Homo sapiens: one gene and its partner. The protein of the gene in region 1 interacts with the protein of each later gene in a biochemical or structural test. Each region holds a gene or a part of one and is shown in the gene's direction. Other genes may lie near its edges.

Region 1 (5,917 bases):
ATTAAGAGCTGCTGGAAATGAATGCGTAGGTTGCTACTTACCTTCTCCCACTTTTTTGTGCCTCTGTAGGTACATGGACTATATCGCACAACAGGTGCTAGTTTTGAGAAGGCCCAACAGGAGTTTGCAACAGGTGTGATGTCCAACAAAACTGTCCAGACCGCAGCTGCAAATGCAGCTTCAACTGCAGCATCTAGTGCAGCTCAGAATGCTTTCAAGGGTAACCAGATTTAAGAATCTTCAAACAATACACTGTTACCTTTTGACTGTACCTTTTTCTCCAGTTACTGTATTCTACAAATATTTTTATGTTCAAAACACACAGTACAGACAGCATGGATATTTCCTGTTCACTTGTGCATGGGCTAAAACCAGGAAAACTTCCTTGTCTTATTACTTTACCTAATAGTTTCTTAATATTTCAGTGCCCCTTGCAGAAAAAATATTACATGCTAAATAAATATTCTCCATATTTTTGGGGGATGACATTCAGTGAATTATTTCAGTGGTGACCCACTGAAAATTAATAATGGTACTTATGATTAAAAACGCATTTAATACTAACTGCAGTAGTTCTTTCAAGAATCTTTAGAGATAAGGATTGCACATTGGAAAAGTAAACCATGTTTCATTCCTTTTTCCCTATTTATATTGAAAGAAATAGGCCAGCAGAGACTTAGGGATTTTAAATTGGCTTGCTTTTTAGCTGTTTCAGTCACCAGTGAAGAGCCTATGTGCATTTTGTAGTAGATAATGTAAAATTTGTCATCTTTTTCTTTTCTTTTTTTTAGAATAGCTGATATTTTGATAACAATCTCTAATTTGCATGGGCACCACATTTCTTATATTAAAAGAATTAGTGTTTTGGCTTCTGTACTGCTTATGGTTGTAGGATTCAGGGGTTAATGGAATCACAGAAATGATATTCTGCAAGAATTTCTTTTAAATAAAAAGTTTGGGGGTGCAATATAAGAAGTTTATATAATATGCAGTACATTATCCAAAAGAGAAGGTAGTTAATGCAGTAGAAAGTAGTGGTAATAATTCCTTTTTAAAAAAATTTCGGTAGTCATATAGTAACATTTTGCTATATGAAAACTTTGGTATATTCTGTGGTTACAACTAAGATTGTGTCTGGCAGCTCTTTTTTGGGGATGTGTGTGTGTGATTTTTAACAGAGGTATTAAAGGCTAGCCTAACTGTTGTCTAAAAAGATTGTACAGTATTTAAGGGATTTTCCTTTTAGCTTTTCATCTCCAGTGGCATTAAACATAAAAAGACCCTGGCATTTTTTCACATACTTGAATCCCTAAATGCACCTGTCTTTCACTTTTTGAGACAGACTGAATATATCTAAAATTTCCAGCAATAAAAAAAAAAGCATTTAACTTGCACCAAGCAAGAAAATATAAATACAGTTAACTGCATTAAGATAATCACGTTAAAATTGTTACTATGCAGCACAGAACTTCATTCTTATAGTATTCTTGGGTTCAACCTTTGAATCAATTTTACCACTGATTAAATAAATGACTCAAAGACATCTGTAAGTCATGCTGCTGTGTTTTGAAAGTCTTTAACTAAATTAAGATTGCAGAATGATAGTGATTATTCAATTAGATTTTAAGTAAGGATTGTGATATTAGAGGCTGGAAATCCTTATTTTTTAAAAAATCAGATAGGCATAAATAGTTAAATCACTTTCATTCTCCCCAAACCTGTAGTTACAGAAAAAGTTTTATGCTAGAGGTGGGATGCCAAGTTTTCACTATCCATGAAGCAGCGCTGCATGTCACTAGGTAACACAGATCCATCCAGATGGTGTTTACATTTGATTTATTTGGGATCTTATTGACATCAGGTATACTTGGAAGACATTTCTTTTATTCTTCAGCGTATGAATTTAAAGCTATTTTTTGTAAATATTTCTAATCAGCGATAATTTCTACCTATGTTCTCAACCAACTTAGCCAGTTTGTTTTTCAGAGCCTGTAGTCTTATTGGAAATCTATTTTATCAGTGTGCTTTATTGAGTGTGGATTTTGCATACATTCAAAACATTAACCACAAAATACAGCAAGTGCACCTATATTCACCATTAACTTATATCCCAAGTCCATTTTTTCCTGTACACTACAAACAAAAGATATATTAGAGACTTTTGAAAAATGCTGAAATACTTTGCTTCAGAATTGGAATGTTTATATTATGTAGAAATCTTCAAAGGTAGCATTATTAAATAGCAAAGAATAATTAGAACCCACATATCTTTTTTTGTGTGGATGGGGAAAATGTTTTAAAATCCAGTTATTTAATATGAGTTTGAGAGAGAAAATTGTTTTTTAAAAATATATGTGCATTGAAATGATGGCAATGCTTATAGTATGATCAAGTATGAAAGGAACTTTAAATTCTTATATTTACTTTTCTCTCAGTAAATTGTTAAATTTTCACTCAGCAAAAGATTGGCATTTGTTAAGTGTTCTATATTTAGTACTAAAATCACAGTCATGAAATCATAGTCATAAAATGGTCTTCACACAGCAGTCATCCGTGTCATTTATCATTTTGTAATATTAAATTATGGCAATTTTATTTCAAACTAAAGTTTGAACACCGGAAAGTCATTACTCAGTGATTTGTAATTTGGGACTTGGATTATTTATCTAGAGATGTTTGTATATTTTGTCAGTAACTAATACTGCGCTGCCATCATGGTGACTGTCATGGTTCTACAGAAATGCCCTCCATGTGTCCCTCTAATGTTGCATGTTTCAGTGGGTTGGAAGTTTTGTATATTTATTGTATTAACACAGAGTGTCATAAAATAAAATGCTGTTTACTGGATGTTTGTTTGTATAATTTTGAACACTATAATAGCAATTCAGAGACAGACATTGTTAAAGGTTTGATGTATATAGAAATTCCATGTTTGATTTTTTAAAATATGTGTATAAGTCTGTCATGTGCTAAACAAAATAATATGAAAGACCTAGTTAAAAATTCTAACCAATGTAAAATGACCATTTTTCTGTTGCATTAGACCTTTACAGGTAATGGAACATGAGCTTCACCCATATTAAATATTTTGGCCCCTTTAAGGTCAAAATACAGATCATCTAGAAGTTAGATTCAAAATGGAAAACCTATTCATGGCTCAGATTTTTCATTGTGGGTTAAAAATGGGTGTCTCTGTACTAGTATTGTATTTATTCAATTGAACTTGTATTCTGATTTCTATCCTTGCTACCTATTGCTGTTTTATGTACTGATGAAAGTACCTATTTGTGTATATTGGATTTTTCACTTGGTTAGCTAAAGAAGATGTAAAAATATCTAAAATAATGTTCATGGTGAATCTTATTTTGAGAAATACATGTTAAAAAAGGAACAGTATTCTTTATTTTCTGGGTGTTATATTTAAAAAAGCAAGTTTGGATTTTTACACCTAATTTACTAGGAAAATATTTTATTCTGTAATTCATGTTAAGATTATGTATGGTTTGCATTTTAAGGGGATTTATGTTAGGTTAATTAGTTGTTTCTGTAAATCATTTGTAATAGCATAGTGCTTTTTACTCATTGCTGTATCTTTTTCTGAAAACACTGTTGTTAACATCTAATTCAGTATCCTTATTGGTACAAATCTGTGTTTGGCATGACTGTTTATATACAGAATTTGTTACATTTTGAGCATTTTTTCCCCTGCTTATGTATACCTTAGAGTTACCATGGCTGTCATATACCATTTCACTATATCTCCTTTCAGTTTTTCCTTAAGGAAAATGTTTAGAGGAATTTGTTCATTTCATGTGATTAAGCCCTTTAGAGATGAAATAAGATTGGTTAATTTTAAAAAAATTGAGGATGGTTAAAAAATAGAAAACACCTTACTTTGATACATTTTAAAGTACAATAGTATACATTTATTTAGAGTAGACTAATGTGTTTAAAACATGAGTTGTTTTAAATACTTTTTTATTGAGCTAAAAAGTTTTATCTCACATATTAAGTATTACAGAAAGTGAAGTATTTTGGCTAGAATTTTAGGGCATATTTTATAAAGCAGCATGCCTGTAATATTGGTGGGTATTTTTAAACTTTAGGACTTTATCACAGTATGTAGAGAGCTAGAAATAAATCTAGAAACTTTCTAAGCCAGGTATTGCCACTAACCTGTCTTATATAAGCAGATACCTCTTATTTGAAGATTGTAGGAAAATAGAGAAAGACTGTTCTCCAGTTTTCTCACCCCCGCTGTGGGTTTTATATTTACAATTTAACTTTGGGGTTTGGGTAAGACAAACATTTAATGTATAGGATTTTGGCCAGGTGTGGTGGCTCACGCCTGTAATCCCAGCACTTTGGGAGGCCAAGGTGGGCGGATCACGAGGTCAGGAGATCGAAACCATCCTGGCTAACATGGTGAAACCCCATCTCTACTAAAAATACAAAAAAAAAATTAGCTGAGCATGGTGGCGGGCGCCTGTAGTCCCAGCTACTTGGGAGGCTGAGGCAGGAGAATGACGTGAACCTGGGAGGCGGAGCTTGCAGTGAGCCGAGATCTCTCCACTGCACTCCAGCCTGGGCGACAGAGCGAGACTCCATCTCAAGAAAAAAAAAAAAGAATTTTCATTAGTGCTGGCCGTGTTTCAAATGGCAAGGGAACATGGGAACTATCATGTGGCAATGTAGTGAGTGTTAAACTTTGTGTTTGTCCAAATCCTGATTTATTTTTCAGTTCATATCTTTCTGGGCTTGACATGGCTGATGGTGTAGCTGAAACCCTCCTAACACTAAAAGCCATTTAATCTTTTCTGTAATAGGAGCAGAAAATAGTTAATCATCCACCTAGTAATATAAGATTACTGTGAATATTATCTTCTATACATTAAAACAGTTCTAGTTTGTAGAATAATACCATACAAGTTTTATTTTTAAATTCTAGTTATTTTCAGTGCTTACTTAAATGTAATTCTAGAATTCCTCCACAACTTTTAATATTTTGTATGCCAGTGATTCTCAAGATAAATCATGATTGTAGTAGTTGTTACTGTTGGCAGTTTGTAGTAGTATTCAGGTATTTTGGGGATGGGGGAAAACACCAAAAATCAGTGTCTTTTATCTGGTGATCACTGTGGTATCTACAGTATTCTAGTCTCCTGCACAAAAACTGAACCCACTGGGCCTATGCATCCCTCACACTTTTTTTCTAGTATAAAAGCAATACATAATGTGTTGTAGAACAATTAAAAATTCAGAAAGTGATACATGAGAAAATAAAAATAAATCCTTAATTCTGTCATCTTGGGGTACCTCTGCTAATATTTTATTGTCTTCCATTCTTTTTCTATGCATATGTGTTTTGTTTAGTTAAGAGATATAAGCAATATGGATTTTTAAAAACCTTATTTTCCCCTCACTTAGCTTTATGTCATAATGGCGCAATAGTTTAGTTTTTTAAATTAACTTTTTTAATTTATAAAATTAATGTATATTTCAGTATAAATTATAGAAAATATAAGCAAAAGAAATAACCAAAATTCTCATAATTTTACATCCATGAATAACTTCTATTAAAATCTGGTTTATATCTTTCTATTTTTCTAGGAAGACAACTTCCTAATATTAAAAATGAGATGACCCCGTACATCCTTGTACATCCTTTAGGGATGTCTACCTACTCCTCAAAAGCCCCACTTCTTTGGGTCCTTAAAGTCCACATTGGTACTGGATGTCATCTGGCCATAGTGGACTCATTCCTGGCTTATCAGTTTTTTATTCTGAATGTAGATATGTCTAGAACTCTACTGTTCCAGAATTGGAACATAAGAGGTAGCCATTTTCTGCCATGAGGAAGGAATCACCAAGAAAGCTGGTCTGCAATGAAAATGAAGAATGAAACAGACATAACAGG
Region 2 (7,294 bases), on another chromosome or scaffold:
GTTCCAGATTGTTGTTATTTTCATTTACTTGCTTTCATTCCTATCTTAACTTTAATTCTAAGGTTTTCCAAGTAGAGTTGCCAACTTTGTTCATTTTAGGAGAATAGATTTTATTTTCCTAAATGGTGTGATATATTTTTTATACTCAAAAAATACATTGGCTTGACTTCGTCAAAGTACGTTAGTATCTTAGAATTTATGAAGAATCTTATAGTATTGTGTTGTTCAGAGCTGTGGGTTTCTTAGGTTACTGAATGACAGAGTTTAATAATGTTTCCTTTTTTCCATCTCCAGAGTTTAAGCCATAAATTAAAGTAAATGAGGAAATGTTCTGTATAAAGAAATGACACATTTTTATTGAAATTTTAGCAAAAAAGTGGTCCCTTTTGAGATTTTTTGGAGTCTAAAAAGTGACGGAGAGGGAAACTTACAAGTATGTAGACATTAACCAAAAATCTAACCATGAAATAATATGCTTAATATGCCTTCTGATAGACAAGCTTCCATTGACTGTGACTAATTTATTTGCCAACAAATTCCCTTTGTAAACTCACCCGCTTTTATTTCCTTTTAGCCCTTTCACCCAGCTTACATTTCCAATGGAAAAGTTTACAATTCATCAGTAAGTGTAGTTTGCTGTGGTGATTAAAACAAACAAACAAACAAAGCAATACTTGTCAATTTCACAGATATTTCAAAGCAACACATTAAAAATTTAGGCTGTGATAAAAATGGCCGCTTATCACCTCTACATTTTCAGAAATAATACAAGTATAATCAGTGATACTACTAATCTAAAATTCTAGGGTGATTTTTAAAAGTTTTACATCTTCTGTCAGTTTGTGAAATTGACTTGAGTTTTACTAGTGGTATGTCTTACAAATATAAATTACAGGAAATCTGAATGCTGTTCCTCTCTTATTAGATGAATTCCTTGGTGTTGATGAATTATGCTGGTGAATTGGTTAACTATCTCAGGTTAGGAGGAAAAATTAGCTTGTATTGTTTTTGGTGCTTTTTTTTTTTCATCTGCTATATCCAAGTACATATCTTGTTACAAGCACAGTATATTTTATTTTTTAAATTTATTTTTATTTTTATTTTATTTATTTATTTATTTTGATACGGAGTTTTGCTCTTGTTGCCCAGGCTGGAGTGCAATGGCACAATCTCGGCTCACTGCAACCTCTGTCTCCAGGGTTCAAGCGATTCTCCTGCCTCAGCCTCCCAAGTAGCTAGGATTACAGGCACCTGCCACCACACCCAGCTAATTTTTTGTATTTTTAGTAGAGATGGGGTTTCACTATGTTGGCCAGGCTGGTCTCAAACTCCAGACCTCAGGTGACCCACCCGCCTTGGCCTTCCAAAGTGCAGGGATTACAGTCGTGAGCCACCGTGCCTGGCCCAAGCACAGTATATTTTAAGCCTGCATTATTTTATATGCCAATTTAAGAATTGGATTTTGGTTCTCAATACATTTTTATTATTGATATGCTCTTATATGTCATTTTTAGGGGAAAATGTAATTTTTAAAAATGGGTGAGGAAATTAAAGCTTATATTTTAATTTACTTAATTTTAATCTCCAGAAATGGCAGTCATTTTTTAAAATAATAAATGATGTTGGTTGGTATAGCTATATTTATTTGTTTTTTTATTTTTATTTTTGAGACAGAATCTCTCTCTGTCCCCCAGGCTGGAGTGCAGCGGTGGGATCTTGGCTCACTGCAAGCTCCGCCTCCCAGGTTCAAACAATTCTTGTGCCTCAGCCTCCCGAGTAGCTGGGATTACAGGCATGTGCCTCCATGCCCAGCTAATTTTTCTGTATTTTAAGTAGAGATGGGATTTCTCCATGTTGGCCAGGCTTGTCTTGAACTCCTCCTGGCCTCAAGTGATACACCCTCCTTGGTCTTCCAAAGTGCTGGGATTACAGGTGTGAGCCACTGTGTTCGGCCTTGGCATAACTATATTTACATTTGGTTTATCTCTGGTTTTTATTACCTGGTATAGCCTAGTGGATTTTATGGTAGACCTTCAGATGCTATTAGAAAACTGAGATCATCTGTATCCTGATGCTGTACCTGAGTGATGATAACATTACTATGATAATAAAGAATATAGAAACCTTTTAAGAATCACAGGCCTTGGGCCGGGTGCTGTAGCTCACGCCTGTAATCCCAGCACTTTGGGAGGCCGAGGCAGGTGGATCAGCCGAGGTCAGGAGTTCAAAACCAGCCTACGTGACGTGGTGAAACCCCGTCTCTACTAAAAATACAAAAATTAGCCGGGCGTGGTGGCAGGTGCCTGTAATCCCAGCTACTTGGGAGGCTGAGGCAGGAGAATCGCTTGAACCTGGGAGGTGGAGGTTGCAGTGAACTGAGATCACACCATTGTACTCCAGCCTGGGCGACAATAATGAAACTCTGTCTCAAAAAAAAAAGAATCATAGGCCTAAATTTTTATCAATGTCTTAACTGAGTCTGTTTAATTATTTATGAGAAGTACATAAGTACCCACTCTATTTAACCAGAATATAAAAATAAACAAATCTGAGACACATGTTTCTCAGGATCTCTTGAGAGCTGTGTCATGGGCAAAAGAAATTTTATTTAAAAAATAAATAAATAAATAAACAATTCCGTCAGTTACCCCATCCTCAGAGTAGCATAATGTAAACTAAAGTCTAAGTCATACCCTCTAAAACTTTATATAATAGAGTTGGTATTTATTCAAATCCTTTTGAATTTTAATAAATAAAAATAAGTGCTCATTGATACAGTGAGACAGCTGATTTCTAGAAAAGCTCAAGTGCTCAAGGACTTTTTTTCTGTGAGATTCAGCTTATTAGAGACTATAGGGAGGAGCTGCTTTACAATGTGCCCCACCTAGAATGCTTTGCAAATAAATAGATACCTTTTCAAAAATTTTCATCAAAGTTCCCTTCAAATTAATGCCTTCATTTACTTGAGCAAGACCACATAGTATCTAATGTTATTCTTAAAGTGCCTGGCTAAACCAAGTGTTGTACATCCTGAATATTAGATGTAGGATTTTTCATAATACTTTATTGGTACCTCTGATTTTTTTAATGGGTAACATGTTTATCTTTAAAGGGCCACTGTTTTAATATGCCTCTCTTCAAGAACCTCTAGCCCTATTTCTTATTGTATTGTCTGCTTGGCTGGCTAGCTGTGGGAACAAAAAGTCTTGAGAGGAGTACTTTTAGCCAGTTGTAGGATCTAGAGCTAAGAGAGATCCCACACTAAAAGCATGAGCAAATGAAAATGGTACCGTCAGGTACTTTCAGTTCGATTTCTATTTATTTCAGTATCACTAGACTTCAGTGTGGAAATAAATGTGTAGTTCGATAGGGTTTAAAGTATGTAAACATTATTAAGTAATGTCAAGTCAGTGGAGAAAAGTCAGTAAAATTATGCTTGCAGTTTAATATACTGTGTATTATATGGTTTTCAGTTCAGCATTCCCATTTGTTTGGTGGTATTTTTTCTTTCAGGAGAAAGCTTTGCAGAATTCAGATCTGCAGGAACTGATGATGGTTTCACCGATTTTAAAACAGCCGATAGTGTATCACCACTAGAGCCACCAACAAAAGACAAAACTTTTCCACCATCCTTCCCCTCAGGAACTATACAACAGAAACAACAAACACAAGTGAAAAACCCTCTGAACTTAGCAGACCTAGATATGTTTTCCTCAGTTAATTGCAGCAGCGAGAAACCATTGTCTTTTTCAGCTGTGTTTAGCACATCAAAATCAGTTTCTACACCACAGTCAACAGGTTCTGCTGCTACTATGACAGCATTGGCAGCAACAAAAACTTCTAGTTTGGCTGATGATTTTGGAGAATTCAGCCTTTTTGGGGAATATTCTGGTCTAGCACCTGTTGGGGAGCAGGATGACTTTGCAGATTTTATGGCTTTCAGTAATAGCTCTATTTCATCTGAGCAAAAGCCGGATGACAAATATGATGCCCTTAAAGAGGAAGCCAGTCCTGTTCCTCTAACCAGCAACGTGGGCAGCACAGTGAAGGGTGGACAAAACTCGACTGCTGCGTCTACCAAGTACGATGTCTTCAGACAACTTTCTCTGGAAGGGTCTGGACTAGGTGTTGAAGACCTGAAAGATAACACTCCTTCAGGAAAAAGTGATGATGATTTTGCTGACTTCCACTCCAGTAAATTTTCTTCCATAAACTCGGACAAATCCCTGGGAGAGAAAGCAGTGGCTTTCAGACACACCAAAGAAGACTCTGCATCAGTGAAGTCCTTAGATCTCCCTTCCATTGGTGGCAGCAGTGTTGGCAAGGAGGACTCTGAAGATGCACTCTCTGTTCAGTTTGACATGAAATTGGCTGATGTGGGAGGAGATCTTAAGCATGTCATGTCTGATAGCTCTTTGGATTTACCAACAGTTAGTGGCCAGCATCCTCCTGCTGCAGGTGAGGAATTGGTGAGATTGCTCTGGTGATGGTGTTGTAGATTTCAAAGATGATTCTGCGGGTGTTGATTTACATGAGTAAGGCTCTGGCCCTTTAGCTTTATGAATCTCTAATAATCAACCTCTTTATTGCCAGTCTCCTTAAAGCAGTGTTAAATTTGATTCTATGGATACTTGATATGGATACTATGGCTACTGTGGAACTTAGATTGGGTAGCTAAGATATTTTTATTTTTGAAATCTAGCACCAGCTTGGTGTTAGAGGCACATAAAAAGTCACTGCTAAGTGAACCTCACATTGCCAGAAATTTGATAAAGACCTTTGCAGTGCCGGCAGTGTTCCTTCATTTCTGTGAGTAAAATCAGTGTTTCCCTCTCCTTTTTTCTTCTCTTGGGTATACACAGCAACTGCCAGTATAGTATTCTGTTTGATTTACAGAAATTAACTCTTGTTAGGTCAAGAAAGTAAAAATTTCTAACCACTTGTAGTGCAGTTTGCCACATCCTTTTAAGAGAAGAAGAGGGAAAGAGTTTATATATGAATGTTCTGTATGTCAGGGCCTGGCAAAGAGGAGGGTGTGTGTTGTCAGTGGAATCCAGGAGCTGTTTTCAGTGTTAACTCTATTACTGGAAATATTAAGTTGTAACAAATCTGTAGATGCTAGGATAGGGTAACTGCTAACTTTCTGATAAAATGTTTGAAAACATCTTATTAGGGAGCCCTCTTTAAATTCTGTGTAGATTTACATGTAGCAATTTACTCTCTAGTTCAACTTCTGTCATAAAAACTAGATTCCCAAGTGTCCTGGTTTTTCTTTTGTTTTGTTTTTTGATATGTATATAGAAAGATAAACCTATTTTGTGGCCTTTTAATAATGAGAAATATCTCAGTATCACTGTATTATTCTAGAAAATGTATTATGCATATGAAGGATTTGGTTTTGTCTAACTAGGGGGGACACGTGAGACACTTCCAAGTTTACAGATTCAGGCAGAAATTGTAAAGTCCTATAGCTTTTGCATATGTCAAATTGGCAAGTCGGAAAACAAAATTGCATCCATCCTTTGGTTATGGAAATGTTGTAGGTATTGCTAAACAGGCTGCTGAATCAGGAGCAAGTTAGCAGAGACATTGCATGTTTCATGTTGCTACTTGCTAAGGTATTTTTCAAATGCAGTGGGCGGTCTGAAGAGCTCCTGTGCCCTTGACTGTCTACTTTCTGTCTTTTTTTTTTTTTTTGTACTTTTCCTCAGAAATTTTCTTATTTTTTTGCTGCTGTTTGTTTGATAGAGTGATTGTGGGTTTTGTTTTGTTGGTTTTTTTTTTTTATGAGCTGCTTGAACCACAGCAGTTGGTTGCAAAGTGCTCTGTTTTCTGAACAATATTGGATTTTTATTTAAAAATCTCATAACATGTATACTAGCCTTTTGGACTCTGAAGTTATTAATTAGAAACTATTTTTCTGAAAGTGAATCTATATTCTTTCACAGTGCCAAGGTAGATGTCTTTATGAAATGAGGCTAATCCGGGTTTGGGGTGTCTTTTTTTTTCCCCCATTTTATTTGGAGGTTGGTTTTTTTGACCAAGCTTGTTCTTACTGACCTGTTAAAATAATCTTCTGTGCTCATGTTCTTTTATGTATGTTTGGAACATCCTCAGCTTGGAGCCTGTAATGTTCAAGCTAACTCTTCAGTTGGAGGATATTCTTAAAAGCAGATTGTTTCCTCCCATTGATCTGTAAACCTCCTGTCAGAAAGGAGCAGTATCCCTTTAGAGCGGTTGTTAAAAGGGGTTGATGTCTGACCAATGCGCTATATTGCTGTTGTGCAAAATTGCTGCATCAATGTATTGTAGAGGGTAAATGGCAAGGACTTATTCAAAGTAATGTAGTTTTATTTTATCCTCATGTTCACCACAGTATCTCTTGCTCTCTTAGTTTGAGGGTTAAAGGTACTTCTTGTTGGAGAAATAAGAAGTGAGCTGATGAAGAGAGAATAAAACCTGGTAGATTGCTATCTGCGGACCTTAATCCTGTTTAGAAGCCCTAACTTAACTCTGAAGGGGATACTGTCTCTTTTAACTCTTGCTATAATCATTTGTATGGAAGGTAGATAATACTGATAACATTGCCTGATTTCTCTGCGTATTATTACATTTAACCCTTTGAGGCCTTGCTGCATATAATTTCAACTAGGCTGTTTTTTCCCCCTGACTAAATTTAATCTGCGGCACTGAAGCATCTTGACGTGCAGTCATTAAAATCATATGGTTTTATTGGCAGCAAGAGCTGACCCTCATCTGTGACATTTTCAAAGGGTTAGCAAGACTTCTGTAGCTACCTACCTACCTATCTGTAAAGTAGCTCTTCTTTGACATTGAAAATCTTTGTATTTTAATTAGCACCTTTTTTTTTTTTTGGCTGCTTTTCTGATGTCTTTTTTTCAATTTAGACATTTTCTGTGTGAATGTGCCTTCAAATTTACTTTAGTATATTCCTCTGCAAATACTGATCTGCATGCTTATTCTGATGACTTCTTTTCCAGCTCTTCTGTATCACTCTCTTTTGTGATCTGTAAGTCTTGTGTTAATAAATAATTCTTTGGCATATTTTGAAAGTGTGGGGATGTGTGTAATTTGTACTTTTTCAGGGTTAGACCAAAGAAATACCTGGCTGATACCAAGTTTAAAGCAATAGTATCCTAAGACTAGAGGGTTTTCCCCTTTTGTTTTGTTTCGTCAAACACTTGTCTCCTGAGAAAGTATTGGTACATTTTAGCCTTTGTTTCTTATAATTCCATTAATGTAAGTTTTTAACATGGCATTGGATTGAAATAGA

What was found.
Region 2: the proteins of SCAMP1 (region 1) and SYNRG form a complex in vitro, tested with the Homo sapiens proteins (one study listed by BioGRID).

The regions. Positions count from the first base shown.
Region 1 is NC_000005.10:78,475,435-78,481,351, forward strand, and holds the end of SCAMP1 (secretory carrier-associated membrane protein 1), read left to right. Parts: intron 1-69; coding exon 70-234; 3' UTR 235-5,305; downstream 5,306-5,917. UniProt on the Homo sapiens protein: Functions in post-Golgi recycling pathways. Acts as a recycling carrier to the cell surface.
Region 2 is NC_000017.11:37,550,279-37,557,572, reverse strand, and holds part of SYNRG (synergin gamma), read left to right. Parts: intron 1-3,513; coding exon 3,514-4,458; intron 4,459-7,294. UniProt on the Homo sapiens protein: Plays a role in endocytosis and/or membrane trafficking at the trans-Golgi network (TGN). May act by linking the adapter protein complex AP-1 to other proteins. Component of clathrin-coated vesicles.